2 separate regions of the Homo sapiens genome follow, and region 2 is linked to region 1. Evidence: fine-mapped expression QTL. Tissue or cell type: whole blood. Region 1 holds a variant in brackets; the other region holds the start of a gene. All regions are shown on one strand. Distances are between the middles of the regions.

What was found. PIP is the estimated chance that this variant, and not a neighbour inherited with it, causes the effect.
Region 2: it holds the start of OGFOD2, and the variant in region 1 is fine-mapped to the expression of OGFOD2 in whole blood (TOPMed, PIP above 0.99).

Annotation. Positions count from the first base shown.
Region 1 is chr12:122,851,018-122,859,116 of GRCh38, forward strand. HIP1R (huntingtin interacting protein 1 related) reads left to right here. Exons shown (of 32, transcript NM_003959.3): 7 at 219-280; 8 at 3,026-3,166; 9 at 3,888-3,945; 10 at 4,036-4,111; 11 at 4,248-4,388; 12 at 4,534-4,595; 13 at 4,814-4,886; 14 at 4,963-5,146; 15 at 5,239-5,327; 16 at 5,415-5,531; 17 at 5,608-5,709; 18 at 6,004-6,198; 19 at 7,085-7,232; 20 at 7,332-7,418; 2 more. Among named protein-coding and RNA genes, the nearest start is that of HIP1R, 20 kb to the left of the region's middle. RefSeq lists an enhancer at 2,851-3,351. The variant C/G (reference allele first, on the strand shown) is at 3,794.
Region 2 is chr12:122,971,984-122,980,082 of GRCh38, forward strand. It overlaps OGFOD2 (2-oxoglutarate and iron dependent oxygenase domain containing 2), which reads left to right and starts at 3,261. Exons shown (of 7, transcript NM_001304833.2): 1 at 3,261-3,400; 2 at 3,828-3,884; 3 at 4,671-4,784; 4 at 4,888-4,987; 5 at 6,459-6,586; 6 at 6,770-7,027; 7 at 7,100-8,059. The coding sequence starts at 3,269. The coding sequence ends at 7,363. It also overlaps a transcript of ABCB9 not described here. RefSeq lists enhancers at 2,706-3,165, 7,895-8,099.

The sequences.
Region 1 (8,099 bases):
TCCGTGGCTTTGTTGGTTGATGCTCACGCTCCCAGGGACAGAGGGTGAAGTTAAAAGGGTGGGGTGTACTTGAAGGACTGTCGTCCTGGCAGAGGCACGCTGTCTCACCAGAGCCATGGTGTCGGCGGTGCCCCCGTCCCCACTGGAGGGGGCGTCTCAGGACGAGTGGGTGGGTCCACCCACCCTTTTTCATTTCTTCCCCCACTTCTCTTGCGTAGCTTCCAGCTCACTGTGGAGATGTTTGATTACATGGATTGTGAGCTGAAGCTTTCTGAATCAGGTGAGCCGTAAAGAGGGGATGCGGGGGTCTGAGTGTATTGCTAAGTCCCCAGAGATGGGACGAGAAGAAAAAAGAAGACATGAGTGATCAGACCAACTGATCACTATGAAATGACCCTGGCCAGCCGCAGTGGCTCACATCTGTAATCCCAGCATTTTGGGAGGCCGAGGCAGGCAGATTGCTTGAGGTCAGGGGTTCAAGACCAGCCTGGCCAACATGGTGAAACCCTGTCTCTACTAAAAAAATATAAAAATTAGCCAGGCGTGGTGGCGCACGCCTGTATTCCCAGCTACTTGGGAGGCTGAGGCAGGAGAATCACTTGAACCTGGGCGGCGGAGATCATGCCGCTACACTCCAGCCTGGGCAACAGAGTGAGTCTCCGTCTTAAAAAAAAAAAAAAGAAAAAGAAATGCCCCTGCCCCTCCTGGGGTCCCTGCACCTCCAGGGATAGGTAATGGGGCCTCCTGGCCCCTCCAAAGCATGGCAGGCCCCAGCGGGTACATCCAGGATACAGGTTCAGCCATCTCTTCCATCCAGTGAGTGTCACTCCATCAGCCCCAAGACAGGGAGGGTGAGGAGGTGTGCACAGGAGCCACCTTGCCAGGTTCCTGCCCCAGCCTTGGGCCATCTGCAGAGCCCAGCTGGAAGAAAGGTTTGGGTCGTCCTGCCATTTTCTGCTCTAGAAAGCCTCTGAGTCACGTCAGACTTCCTAGCGAGGGAACCCGGCCGCTGTTGGACAGGAAATCTCAGAGGGCTCAGCTTCCAGGCTGGAGAACTGATTGTTCTGGGTGGCAGCTTCAAAACAACTCATGGGTGACTCAGTGCTCTCCATAAGAGGGCAAGAAGCAAATGCCTCCTTAAGGGAAAATTGGGAGTTAGAGGCAGTTTGGGCAGCCTCCCTGAGTCCCCAGGTCTGGCCAGTGCAGCTGGGCGAGCCTGATGGGTATTCAGTTCCAGTGGGTGGGAGGTGGGCTCAGAGTTGGACCCTTGTGCCTGGGAAGAGCCTGCTCAGGATCTGACATGGAGAGCAGAGGGCAGGTGTCCAAAGGTGTGGCCCCAACTGTGCAGCAGGACAGGGCTACCAGGCTCTGTGTCCTGGCAGAGATGTGCTGAGCCTGAGCCTCTCAGCACAGAGCCCACCAGGTAGGAGCCAGTTACCCCTGGCATGGGAGAAGGCCAGTGTGGGCAGGCAGTGGCCCCACGAGGGAAGTGGAGAACACTCACAGGCACGCTTCCCACCTGGTGACGCTGGTGTGTTGATGAAGCACAAATGGGGTGTACCAGCATCTGCTGGAGAAATTCCCAGATCTGCAGAGGTGACAGGTACAGGGGCTTCCCTGCCTCAGGACCTGTAACAGCAAAGAAACACAAACGTCCTAAACATGCCTCAGCAGAGGCTGCGTCTCGCTGTCTGTGCAGAGCAGAGAACGGAGGGTGGTGGGAAGAGAGATGTGTCGAATCTGGGATGGCCGGGAAGATCTAGAAAACATTCTACTGTGTGAAATCAAGCAGATTGCCGAACAGCATGGACATACGTGTTGAAGATCCAAGCAGTACTTTATGTGTGCTGTAATTTTTTGCAAGGAAAACATACTTAGCATGACATGTAATTAGAGATTACTTTTTTAAAAAGGCAAGGGGCGGCACTTTGTGTCTTCCTTCTTGCCCCTCCCCCCCAGGCTCTCTCCTGTCACTGCAGAGATTTGCAAGTGGTCCCATCACAGGCAAGGCAGGAGCAGGACCTGAGGGGCCAGGGCACAGGTCTGTGCAGCGGGGGCTGTCTGGCCGCTCTCCCGTGCTGGCCAGCTGCCTGCTCTTTGTCATTCTCTCTGCCCCAGAGAAGCTGCCAGCCAAGGAGGAGGCAGCCTCATGTTTGTCCTTTGTCCCTCCCACTTGGTAGTTCTGATACAAGGCCCGATTGTCAGGGGCAGGGGAGACGGGCCCTGGGGGTGTCAGGGGCAGGGGAGACGGGCCCTGGGGGTGTCAGGGGCAGGGGAGACGGGCCCTGGGGGTGTCAGGGGCAGGGGAGACGGGCCCTGGGGGTGTCAGGGGCAGGGGAGACGGGCCCTGGGGGTGTCAGGGGCAGGGGAGACGGGCCCTGGGGGTGTCAGGGGCAGGGGAGACGGGCCCTGGGGGTGTCAGGGGCAGGGGAGACGGGCCCTGGGGGTGTCAGGGGCAGGGGAGACGGGCCCTGGGGGTGTCAGGGGCAGGGGAGACGGGCCCTGGGGGTGTCAGGGGCAGGGGAGATGGGCCCTGGGGGCAAGCGAGGTTTCAGGGTCACTTGGGGTGTGCAGAGCCAAGCTGTGACCCTAGTGCCGTGTTACTTGGCAGAAGCCCTGCCTGTTCCCACATCTGTAAAGTTAGGCATTTGGGGTGCTCCATCGTGAGCCTCCTTCCTGCTCTAACATTCAGCGTGGGTTTGAGGCCCGTGGGCATGGAGCTATCCGTCACCCTTGTCAGTCGGGCACCTCGTCCTGGGCTCCCAGGTGGAGGTCTCTGGAAGCCCTTGCTGAGCTGGGCTGGGAGCTCCTTTGCCCTGACCTTGTTGTTGCCGTTGACCTCCTTCATGGGAGCATCTGGTCTTGACCTGGGGCAGCCACCAGCACATGAGGCTCCCGTCTTGGAGGCAGGGGGCACACTGGTGTGTGGGAGCTGGCTTAGGGCCCTGCTTCACAGTTGGACCACCTTGGACAGGTTGCCCAGCTCCCAAGGGCTCACGTTCTTCCTCCTGCCCCTTTTGCACAGTTTTCCGACAGCTCAACACGGCCATCGCCGTATCCCAGATGTCCTCAGGCCAGTGCCGCCTGGCCCCCCTCATCCAGGTCATCCAGGACTGCAGCCACCTCTACCACTACACGGTCAAGCTCCTGTTCAAGCTACACTCTTGTGAGTGGCCCAGGGCAACCCCTGGCCCGGAAGGCTGTGTTTATATGGCTTAGACATTCACTGTCAAAAAGGAAAATCGAAAAATTAGAGGTTTATTCATTTAAAAATGGCAGTAATAAACCCACTGCCCATTAATAGAAATAACATATATTTTATGAAAAAAAAAAAAAAAAAACCCACTACTTTACCAAGCAAAAAACTTAGTGAGTGGCTTGGTTTTCATTTTTACGACTAAATGCCTGGCTCGGCCAAGACGGAGGCCCCAGCTGCTCCCAGGAATCTCCCGCCAGGCACCCTGGGGGTGCAAGCGCAAAAAGGCAAAAGGTGTCTGGGGTGTTAGGAGAGTTTTGATCTAACCAACCCCTTGAAAGGGTCTCGTCCCTCGACCGCACTTTGAGAACCACTGTGTTAGTGTCAGCCTGGGACCAACGTGTTTGGTGAAAGCGGCTTGCTAGTGCCTCCCGAAGCCAGGTGTGGGTTAGGTGAGATGTGGCCGCAGCGCCTTCCTTTCCATTCGCTGTTTCCTTCTCTAGCTCAGTCTGAACTGAGCCCTCCCACAGCGTCTCCCACAGGTCTCCCCATCCCGATGGGAGAGCGGGCCTGGCCCGGTCTCAGGTGATCTCTGAT[C/G]TGTGAGTTTGTAGCATACGGAGGAACAAGGCAGGGCAGGTGAGCCCCTGAGCAGTGTGCAGAGAAGTCCTGTTACACTTGTGCCACCCTCCAGGTCTCCCTGCGGACACCCTGCAAGGCCACAGGGACCGGTTCCACGAGCAGTTTCACAGGTACTGCCTGGGACAGGGACAGGATTGAGGCCGGTGGGGGAGAGGCTCCGTGGCCCCTTCCTGAACCCGAACTTCCCACCATCTCTGCAGCCTCAGGAACTTCTTCCGCAGAGCCTCCGACATGCTGTACTTCAAGCGGCTCATCCAGATCCCCCGGCTGCCCGAGGTACCACCCCCAAGAGGGCCCCGAGGCCCTTTGAGGACCCCAGGCACCTGGCTGGGCCCCACACAGGCTATGGAGATGGCGGAAGGAGGGCTTGCTTAGGGGACAGCTGAGCAGGTCCCACCTGCCGCCCCTGCAGGGACCCCCTAACTTCCTGCGGGCCTCAGCCCTGGCTGAGCACATCAAGCCGGTGGTGGTGATCCCCGAGGAGGCCCCGGAAGATGAGGAGCCGGAGAATCTCATTGAGATCAGCACAGGGCCCCCCGCGGGGGAGCCAGTGGTGAGCCCCCTGCCCAGCCCGTGTCCCCCAGTCCTCCAGCTGCAGCATGAGGCCAACGGGAGTGTCGGGTGGCCAGCCCTCCCTTTGCCCACTGCCCGGCCTGGAGGGCACAGGTGAGTGGGGTCACCATGCTTTGCTGTGGCAGGTGGTGGCTGACCTCTTCGATCAGACGTTTGGACCCCCCAATGGGTCTGTGAAGGACGACAGGTGAGGGCTGGAGGAGCCGACTGGGCTGGGGGTGGTTGGAAACGGGCTCAGCTGAGCTGTGCTCTGGACAGTTCTGTCTGGAAAGGCCATAGGTGGGGAACATGAACCCGTGAGGTGCCCAAATCCTGAGTGGCCACTGAGGAGGAGACAGGTTCCTGTGCTGGGTCTGTTGACTGTTCTGGTTGACTTAACTTGAACCCCAGGACCTCTGTCCCCAGGGACCTCCAGATTGAGAGCTTGAAGAGAGAGGTGGAAATGCTCCGCTCTGAACTGGAGAAGATCAAGCTGGAGGTGCGGGGTGGGGATGGGTGGGGGCCAGGGCCCCTCACGGCCCAGGCAGGGCCCCACGTCACACCTCCTCCCGCAGGCCCAGCGGTACATCGCGCAGCTGAAGAGCCAGGTGAATGCACTGGAGGGTGAGCTGGAGGAGCAGCGGAAGCAGAAGCAGAAGGCCCTGGTGGATAATGAGCAGCTCCGCCACGAGCTGGCCCAGCTGAGGGCTGCCCAGCTGGAGGGCGAGCGGAGCCAGGGCCTGCGTGAGGAGGCTGAGAGTACGTGGGGCCTTGGCCACAGGGGTCCAAGGGTGTGTCCCCAGCCCCTGCCACCCCACACGGGGCATCACTGCCCCTCCTCTCGCCCCCAGGGAAGGCCAGTGCCACGGAGGCGCGCTACAACAAGCTGAAGGAAAAGCACAGTGAGCTCGTCCATGTGCACGCGGAGCTGCTCAGAAAGGTAGGTGCAGCCCATCCTCCATCCCAGCCGGTGGCAGGGCCTCTCGGGGATGGCAGCAGAGCATGAGCCCTTCCCCTGCCCATGCAGAACGCGGACACAGCCAAGCAGCTGACGGTGACGCAGCAAAGCCAGGAGGAGGTGGCGCGGGTGAAGGAGCAGCTGGCCTTCCAGGTGGAGCAGGTGAAGCGGGAGTCGGAGTTGAAGGTATGTCCCTTGTGGCACAGGGCCCTGCCCCGGCATCCCCAGCCCACTGCCCCAGTGACACGCTGTCCTGTCCCAGCTAGAGGAGAAGAGCGACCAGCTGGAGAAGCTCAAGAGGGAGCTGGAGGCCAAGGCCGGAGAGCTGGCCCGCGCGCAGGAGGCCCTGAGCCACACAGAGCAGGTGCATCTGGCTTTGATGACTGGAGGTGGGGTTCTGGGGCCAGTCCTGGGTGGAAGTCAGGTCCTCTTTCCCGTGAACAGGCCCCACCTGGGTGCCACTCGGTGATCCTGGGATGCAGCCCTGACCCAGACCCAGGGGCTACATGGGAGACAGGACCTACCGCTGGTCCTCAGGGAGCCCTGAGTCTAATGGAAGTGATCACTAACCCCCAGGGCCCAGTTTATAAGCGTGGGGGCAGGGTGGGTGGGGCCTGGGAGCTCTGTTCACATGCCTGGTGTCCATGTCTGTCCACAGAGCAAGTCGGAGCTGAGCTCACGGCTGGACACGCTGAGTGCGGAGAAGGATGCTCTGAGTGGAGCTGTGCGGCAGCGGGAGGCAGACCTGCTGGCGGCGCAGAGCCTGGTGCGCGAGACAGAGGCGGCGCTGAGCCGGGAGCAGCAGCGCAGCTCCCAGGAGCAGGGCGAGTTGCAGGGCCGGCTGGCAGAGAGGGTATGGCCTCCCCAGATGCAGCAGCACCACTGAGTTCACTGCCGTCTGGCAACCATCGATCTGTCTCCGTGATCTGCCTGTTCTAGAGATTTCATGTAAAGGGGATCATACACGATGCATCCTTTTGTGTCCGGCTTCTTCACTCAGCATCACGTTGTCAAGGGTCACCACATCATAGCCTGTGTCATTACCTCATTCCTTTTATGGCTGAGTCGTACTCTGCCGTGTGGACAGACCACATTGTGTTTATCTGTTCATCACTTGGTGGACATTGGGTTTGTTGCAACTTTCTGGCTGTTGTAAATAGTGCTGCTGTGGGCCTTTGAGCACAAGTTTCTGTGTAAACATCTGCCATCACTTATCTTGGATAGATAGCTGATGTGTGTGGAACACAGTAGAACTGCTGGGTCTCACCTCTGTTACCCTGTTGAGAAACTACCAGACTGTTTTCCAAAGTGGCTGCACCATTTTACACTCCCACCAGCAACGCATGAATGTTCCAGTTTCTCCACATCCTTGCCAATGCTTATTATTGTCTTCTTTTTATTTTAGCCATCCTAGTGGGTGTGGAGTGGTTTCTCACGGTCTTGATTTGTGTTTCCCTGATAGCAAAGGGTGCTACATATCTTTTCATGAGCTACCTGGCCATTTGTGTATCTTTGGAGAAATGTCTTTTAGGACCTTGAGCTCACGTTTTAATTGGGTTATCTTTTTATTCTTGAGCTGTGCACTGTGTGGGAAGCCTCTTTCTAGAAATCTCCACCCCCCTGACCAGTGAGGGTCTCAGCTGGGCTCCAACTGGTGGCCCATGGGTCATTCCAGGGCTGGGGCACATCCTTGGCCTTGGGGAGGATCTCTAACCTGTCCTCTTCACCCCCATTGCCAGGAGTCTCAGGAGCAGGGGCTGCGGCAGAGGCTGCTGGACGAGCAGTTCGCAGTGTTGCGGGGCGCTGCTGCCGAGGCCGCGGGCATCCTGCAGGATGCCGTGAGCAAGCTGGACGACCCCCTGCACCTGCGCTGTACCAGCTCCCCAGGTAGACAGTGGGGCCACACTCAGCCGCTCCCCTGCCTCCTTCCCATCCCCAGCCCTGAGCAGCGGGTGGCAGGGGCCTCAGTTCTCCTCGTGCTTGCAGACTACCTGGTGAGCAGGGCCCAGGAGGCCTTGGATGCCGTGAGCACCCTGGAGGAGGGCCACGCCCAGTACCTGACCTCCTTGGCAGGTGAGTGTAGCCAGGGCAGGGCGGAGGCGGGGGCTGTGTCCCAGTTCCAGCGCCCATGGCCACCTCTTGCCTTTTGGGAGGTTTACAGACAGCAGGGACCTCTCTGGGAAGCCAAGCAGATGCCCCCTGCCTGCTCCTTCCCAGGAACCCACCCCTGCCCTGTGGACAAATAGGCTTTTGCCTCTGGGGCCTGGGCCACCATATGTCTGCAGGTGGCAGAGCACTGAAGGGCCCGGGGCCACACACACTGTGGTGTGGTTCCCACTGCCTCCTGGACGTTGTCTTGCCGAGCCCTCCTTTCCTCTTCCTCCTCCTCCTGGGATAGCTGGCCACCGACGGTGGTCCCAGTGCTAGTGTCTCAGTGTCATCCTCCCCCAACCTTGGCCCCACCCACCCGCACAGACGCCTCCGCCCTGGTGGCAGCTCTGACCCGCTTCTCCCACCTGGCTGCGGATACCATCATCAATGGCGGTGCCACCTCGCACCTGGCTCCCACCGACCCTGCCGACCGTAAGTGGGTCCTGGGATGGCAGGTTCTGTCCACCTCACTGGCTTGTCTCCCCTGGGGGTCCTTATGGAGCCTGTCGGTGGGGGGGGCTCCACTCACGGTCCTTTCTCACCCCAGGCCTCATAGACACCTGCAGGGAGTGCGGGGCCCGGGCTCTGGAGCTCATGGGGCAG
Region 2 (8,099 bases), 120 kb after region 1:
TGTAGATGTTATCATAATAAAAAGAATGTTCATAGCAGCTTCATTCATAATGTCTTTTTTTTTTTTTTTTTTTTTTGTTGAGACAGAGTCTCACTCTGTCACGCAGGCTGGAGTGCAGTGGTGCAATCTTGGCTCACTGCAAGCTCCGCTTCCCAGGTTTACGCCATTCTCCTGCCTCAGCCTCCCGAGCAGCTGGGACTACAGACGCCAGCCACCGCGCCCGGCTAATTTTTTGTAGCCAGGATGGTCTGGATCTCTTGACCTCGTGATCCACCCGCCTTGGCCTCCCAAAGTGCTAGGATTACAGGCGTAAGCCATGGCGCCTGGCCTCATTCGTAATGTCTTTAAACTGGAAACAGCGTAAATGTCTGTCAGCTGTAGAATGGGTCAATGACTTGTGGAATGTTCACTCAAGGGAATAGAAAGCAGTCGAGAAAAATAACAGGGGCGCTTCTACGGGGGCTGGAATGTTCTGATTGGGATCTGGGTGCTGGTTACATGGGTTTGTCCAGTGCTCTATGTTGACTTTTTTGTTTTTGTTTTCTGAGACAGAGTCTCACTCTGTCGCCCAGGCTGGAGTGCAGTGGCGCAATCTCGGCTCACTGCAGCCTCCGCCTCCTGGGTTCAAGTGATTCTCATGCCTCAGCCTCCCGAGTAGCTGGGATTACAGGCGTGTGCTACCACGCCTGGATAATTTTGTTATATTTTTAGTAGAGACGGGGTTTCACCATGTTGCCCAGGCTGGTCTCGAACTCCTGACCTCAGGTAATCCGCTGGCCTCAGCCTCCCAAAGTGCTAGGATTACAGGCGTGAGCCACCACACCTGGCCTCTATGTCAATTTTTAAAGTATGTGTAAATATACACATATACAGACATATACATATGATTGCACATTCATATACATATATTCACATACACATATACATACGACTCTGGAATCAAGATACTCTAATTCTGGAGCGTTCTAATTCTGGTCTGCTACTCACTAGGTTTATGACTCTAGACAGATTCCTGTACCCACCTCACTTTCCTTATCTGTAAAATGGGGGTAATAATACCTTAAGCAGTCAACAAAGATACATGTCAGCGCTGGCTGGCAGCACATGTTGATTCAGTACTTGCTGGTAAATATTCTTCTTGCTGCTGCTCCCTTCGGTGACTGAGCCCAGAGTGTCTGGAAGGAGGAGAGGGTCCATGGAGAGGGCCAATCTAAACTGATAAGCAGGCCAGGCGCAGTGGTCTCAGTTCTAGACCAGCCTGGCCAACATGGCGAAATCCCGTTTCTACTAAAAATACAAGGCCGGGCGCGGTGGCTCACGCCTGTAATCCCAGCACTTTGGGAGGCCGAGGCGGGTGGATCATGAGGTCAGGAGATCGAGACCATCCTGGCTAACAAGGTGAAACCCCGTCTCTACTAAAAATACAAAAAATTAGCCGGGCGCGGTGGCGGGCGCCTGTAGTCCCAGCTACTCGGGAGGCTGAGGCAGGAGAATGGCGTGAACCCGGGAAGCGGAGCTTGCAGTGAGCCGAGATTGCGCCACTGCAGTCCGCAGTCCGGCCTGGGCGACAGAGCGAGACTCCGTCTCAAAAAAAGAAAAAAAAAAAAAAAAAAAAAAAAAAAAAAACAAAAACTTTGGGAGGCCGAGGCAGGGGGACCACGAGGTCAGGAGATCAAGACCATCCTGGCTAACACGGTGAAACCCCGTCTCTACTAAAAACATAAAAAATTAGCCGGGTGTGGTGGCGGGCGCCTGTAGTCCCAGCTACTCGGGAGGCTGAGCCAGGAGAATGGCGTGAACCCGGGAGGCAGAGCTTACAGTGAGCCGAGATCGTGCCACTGCACTCCAGCCTGGGCGACAGAGCAAGACTCCGTCTCAAAACAAACAAACAAACAAACAAAAAACAAAAAAATTAGCTGGGCGTGGTGGCGCCTGCCGATAATCCCAGCTATTCGGGAGGCTGAGGCAGGAAAACTGCTTGAATCCGGGAGGCAGAGGTTGCAGTGAGCGGAGATCGCGCCACTGCACTCCAGCCTGGGTGAAACTCTATCTCAAAAAGTAAATAAACAAATAAATAAACTGATAGGTACAACACACTCATCTTGCAAACTGCTGCAAACGGAGAGGGGGTGAGGGTGGGGTGGGGTGCTGCATGTGCCAGGCCTGCCTGGTGGGTGGCTGGGGAGCCGACCTGCCCTGGGCCTCCTGGGGAAAAAGGGCAGTTAGGCGGGTAATGAACATTGATCTGGGGAAATGGATCCTTTCCTAGATAGCAGGGCCTCTCACTATCACTGGGCAATCAAGACGACTGTAAAACGTTAAACACCTTCTCGGGCCGGGCAGCTCTGCACGAGAAAACCCCAAATCCCACATACTTCCACCACTCCCAGAAGCCCTGTGGTGGTTAACTGGGGAACTCTGTAGGGTTCAAACGCCATATTTGCCCCTTACTGGATGTGTGACCTGCGGCGGGTCCCTGTGCCTCTCTGGGTCTCAGTTTCCTCATCTGTAAGACGGTGATATAATAGTACCTAGCTCAAAGGTTTAATGCTGGTAGATTCCTGAGCAAAGGTCCGGGGAGAGAAGAGGCTCGGTCTGCAAGAGTTGTCATTTGTTGGCTGCGGTGAGACCACGCCCCGTCGCCCTCCCACACCTGACCCCGCCCTCCCGCGTCCATTGGGAACGCCACCGGAAGTAATGCGAGACGGAGCGTTTTGGTGGAGACACTCACTGGGGCAATCTGAGGTAATCCAACAGACTGTGGCGGAGGGACCGGAAGCGCCAGGCAGGGACCCGGGGTAGATGCTAAATCCAAACTGAAACGTACAGGGCTGGATGATTGAAGCACCAGCGGGAACTAGTCGGACCTCCGAGCTCTTTAAACTGTCCTCAGCTCGGCTGGTTCTCCACGAGCTCCGGGCAGACGGCGGGGGGTGGGTCGGCGTTTAAGTCAAAGGCCTTGGGGCTCCGAGTCCCTTCCTCTCCCCGTCCTGTGAAGGCACGACCCAGTTCAGCTGTCTGTAAAGTGGAGCCATTAGTCCCTGCCTCGTAGTGGGAAAACTGGGAGGCGGAACGAGGAGGCCGCCGGTCCCAACCCGGCCCAGGAGCATCTTTCTCCGCAGACCGTTTCCTGGCGAGGTGCGTCTTCGTCCTTTTCCGCCCTTGGGAACTTAGAGCGGCCCCTTGGCCGCTGGTTCCGCGCCTCCCGCGGTTGGGGGCGTGCCCGAAGTCTCTCTACGGAAGCTGGTAGGGCTGTGGGTGCTTCACTATGGCGACGGTGGGGGCTCCGCGGCACTTCTGCCGCTGCGCCTGCTTCTGCACCGATAACTTGTACGTGGCGCGCTATGGGCTGCACGTGCGCTTCCGAGGCGAGCAGCAGCTGCGCCGGGACTACGGCCCGGTGAGTGGCCGCTGTCGTCCCTACGGAGCAGTGGGCAGAGAGGGGTAGTGGAGGAGGGAAGTTCGTCCCCAGGGTCGTTTGCTTTGCGCACGCCGCGCACCGTATCTTCAAATACAAGAATGACGGCCTCTCTCTGCCTCGGTTTTCTCACCGTAAAGGGGTAATAGTATCTCCCTGTGAGATTGTGAGGAAGGAATGAACAAGCATGTAGGGTGCTTAGGACAGGGCCGGGCTCAGCTTGCCGCCTCACAGCAACACCAGCCCGGAGCCCTGTCCTGAGCTTGACAGGGTTCCGCAGTTCATTCTCTCCATGATCCTTTGAGGTCGGGGCTCCTCTCCCCATTTTAAGCAGGGGAAACTGAGGCTTAGAGAGTGAAGGGATTTCCTCAGGTCATACAGTCATGCTCAGTGTTCTTTCTGCTCCCAGATCCTGCGCAGCCGAGGCTGTGTTAGCGCCAAGGACTTCCAGCAGCTGTTAGCAGAGGTACCAGTCCCCTGCCCCTGCACAGCTCCTCCTCGTTAGATTTGTGTCCGCAGCTTGAGGACACAGCTTGAGCCTAGCCTCAGTCCCTGATCCCTGAAGGGTCACTTAGGCCCTCACTTTCCTCCTTCCTGCCCCCCACTCATCCCTCCACACCTGAGTCTTGGCACCAGGAGAGAGAAGGGGAAATGCTAAGTTGCTAAGTTGCCTAGTCATGCCGTTCTTAACAGCTCTGTGAGATAAGCACAAGCACCACTCTCATTTTGGATTGAGAAGCTGAGGCTTAAAGAGGGATCCCTTGCCCAAGCTTTTACAGCAGGAGCAGATGTGATCCCAGCCACAGCTTCCAGGCCCCTGGGCTCCTCACACCTTACCATATACCCCGCAGGCTGCTGCCAGGGCTGCTGCCCCACTCCCTCCTCCTCCTTCCCCTGGAGTCAGTGGTGGGAAGCTTCCCAGGAGAGTCCTCAGCAACCTCTGGAACACAGGACTTGGCCATGACTGTCTCCTGTCCCTGTGTGGGCCCAGATGGTTGAGGTACATCTAGGGGTTCTCATCCCAGCTAGGCTCAGGTTGGGGCAGCCTGAAACAGGATGGGTCCCCTTCTAGAAGTCCCTTTCAGCTAACAGTCTGGAACTTGCAGTTGACCCAGATAGATTCAGGAGTGTAGGCTAGACTTGGCTTCCAGCCTGGGCCCTGTCTGGCGTTCTGGGCTTCAGTTTCTTCATCTGTACAGTGGCCTCAGGAGGATGGGAGGCCCCACCTGGTAACAACCCTGTGCCACCCCAGCTTGAGCAGGAGGTGGAGCGGCGGCAGCGGCTGGGGCAGGAGTCAGCAGCTAGGAAAGCCCTCATCGCGAGTTCCTACCACCCGGCACGGCCTGAGGTCTACGACTCACTGCAGGTACCAGCCAGCCAGAGTGCTTGAAGGCCGGTACTGGAAAGAGGAGGTAGCATCCAGGGCTGGGGGTGCTGCCTGCCCCACAGCTGGTGTGTTTTGCTCCCAGGATGCAGCTCTGGCCCCCGAGTTCCTGGCCGTGACTGAGTACAGCGTGTCCCCAGACGCAGACCTCAAGGGCCTTCTCCAGCGGCTGGAGACAGTATCGGGTGAGGTCCTGGCCCTGAGACCTGGCAGGACCAGGGAATGGCAGCCTGGGAAACCTGGGTGTGGGATGCTGGGGTCCCTCCAGCCACCATCTCTGCCTCCAAAAACCAAACCAGCAGGAGCTGGAAGGGTCAGTGGGACCAACCTGCCAGGAGCAGGACATCCGCATTCATTCATTCAATACCTGCCATGAGCCTGGTATCTTCATTCTTTCCTTCACCCTTCCTTCGTGCCCTCATCCAGCAAATAGTGGATATTTGTGTCATGTGTGGGACAGCTGGCACACTCAAACAGGGCTGATCCAAGATCTTAAAGGGACCATTGAGACAGGTATGGGCAGGATAAAGGGACCAGTAAGGAATGGCAAAGCCCGGCCCCCCAGGGCTGGCAACAGGAGGGAGCAGTTACCACCTGGAGTTGTGGCTCTGGGCGGAGGCCTGCGGCCATGCCAAACTCCAAGTAGGGCAAAAAATGCCCCACTTCTCTTCGGATTTCTTGCTGGGCTCACTTATTGGCTAAACCCAGCAGGAAATGCTGGGCAAGGGAGGTTTGCGTGTTGTTTAACCTCTGATTCAGTTTCCTCATCTGTAAAATGGGAGCAACAGTAACCCCCTCTCTTAAGGCACTGCGACGATCAAGTGAGTTAATCTGCATAGAGTGCCTGTCACAGGGCCCGCACGTAGTGTTTGGAAAGTGTTTCCTATTCTTATTGGCACTGATAGCCTGGGCTAGGGGCTCCTGTGGGAGGCAGATACAAGTTTCCCCTCATGGAGCCTGTGCTTTGTTGGGAGTCATGGGTGGAATGAATCCCCCTCCTCCCAGCCTGGGGGTGCTCTCCTCATTGCCTTCCACTCCCCGGCAGCTGAGATAGTGCTGAGGCTGTTGGCTGGGGCAGGGCCTAGGCTGCGAGGTGGCCCCATCGTGGGCACACTAGCCCTGCACCCCTGGGCATTGGTGCGTCCGCCAAGAAATGTTTAGGTTTCCATTCTCAGCCTGGTTTCTTCCCCCTCAGGGCCCAGCAAGAAAGAACAGCCCCTTCTGGCCTTCCTGCTGGGGGACAGAGGCTCCCAGAGCCACTTCTGAGTTGGGGTACAGACTTCGGTGGCTCATCAGATGAAAGGAGGTGCAGAGAGAGCCTGAAGTTGGCTCTGTGATCCCGACTTGGCTGTCACTGGCCTGCTGGGTGTCCCTGGGCTACTTCCTTCCCCTCTCTGGGCCTCAGGACCCATATGTGAGCTCCCAGGGCCAGCCCTGTGGACACTTGTAGAGTCTGGGGAAAGGTTCCGGGCATAAGTGGGGGGCATGGGAATCGGCCTCCCCTGCTCCTCATGTTACTTCCTTAAGTCATCACAATAGCCCTGAAAAGCAAAGGCCTCATCTCCATGGCACAGGTGATGAAACAGGAAGACTGAAGCCCAGGCCTGGCCGGCCCACGGCCACATTCAGGCCAACAGACCATCCCTCCTTCCACAGAGGAGAAGCGCATCTACCGGGTGCCTGTTTTCACAGCGCCCTTCTGCCAGGCCCTGCTGGAAGAGCTGGAGCACTTCGAGCAATCGGACATGCCTAAGGGGAGGCCCAACACCATGAACAACTACGGGGTGGGTGAGGCCTGGCCGGTGGCAGAGGAGGGGGTGGCTGGGGTCAGGAGGCAGTGTCAGAGGTTCTGCAGATGGGCTGCCTGCCCGGGCTGCGAAAGAAGGTCACAGTGGGATCACCGTGGAGTGGAAGCCCAGGGTTGCAGCCCTCTAGTTTCCTTGCTGACCCCAGGAATCCCCTCCCAGGTGCTGCTGCACGAGCTCGGGCTGGACGAGCCGCTGATGACACCACTGCGGGAGCGCTTCCTGCAGCCGCTGATGGCCCTGCTGTACCCTGACTGTGGCGGGGGCCGGCTCGACAGCCACCGGGCCTTTGTGGTCAAATACGCACCGGGCCAGGACCTGGAGCTGGGCTGCCACTATGATAATGCCGAGCTCACCCTCAATGTGGCCTTGGGCAAGGTCTTCACAGGGGGCGCCCTGTATTTTGGGGGCCTCTTCCAGGTGAGTGTGTGACCCATGCGGCAGGGCCTGGGGCAGCTGTGAGTGCCCAGGCCTGAGTCGTGCCATCTGCAGGCACCCACAGCCCTGACGGAGCCCCTGGAGGTGGAGCACGTGGTGGGCCAGGGTGTCCTCCACCGTGGCGGCCAGCTGCATGGAGCCCGGCCCTTGGGCACTGGTGAGCGTTGGAACCTTGTCGTCTGGCTCCGAGCCTCTGCTGTGCGCAACAGCCTCTGTCCCATGTGCTGCCGTGAGCCCGACCTGGTGGACGATGAGGGCTTCGGTGATGGCTTCACCCGAGAGGAGCCCGCCACGGTGGATGTATGTGCGCTCACCTGAGCTTGCTTGGGCCCAGTGTGGGGGTGGCAGGCAGGTGAGGGCTCCGTTGCCTTGGTCTGGGGGCAGAAATAAAATCCCCGCAGCCTACTGCACTTCTTGGCTCAACGGTGTGCCAGCTTCTGGGTCATTCTATGGGCAAAGATGCTGCCTTAGTTCAGGTTTGTCAGAAGCAGGGTCTGGAATGGGGCTTCAGCGAGGGAGTCAGGGAAGCAGGGGAGGGGAGGGAGCAGCTGGGCAAGGAAGTGGCTTCAGAGGACGTCCAGCCTCAGCTGGCCCCACGGAGAGCTCCAGGCAGAGCCCACAGTACCACAGTGTGCCCACACCACCGGTTACTGGCTCCTGGATGAGGGGGCCAGAGAGGAGTGAATAACTTCCCAGACACTTATCTCCAGGGCAGGGTGCCTTCCAGTAGCCAAGGGAAGCCTCCAGAGAGCACAGATGTGAACCCTCAGCAGCAGGCATCACCCCCCAGTGGACTCGGGTGGGCCACCAGTAGCATCTTCTAGATGGCAGAGGGGTGAATGGCAGGGCCAGGAACCAGGCTGCCCGGGTTCCCATTCTGCTTCTGCCACTTCCAGCTGTGTGGCTTTAGGTGAGCCTTCACCTTTTGGTGCCTTCGTTTCCTCATTTAGCACCTACCTCCTAGAGCTGTTTTGGGAGTCAAATGCGCTGACGTATATAAAGTGCTTTGCAAGATCCCTTTGTGTTTGCGGCTGTCATTGTGGAAGAGTTGCAA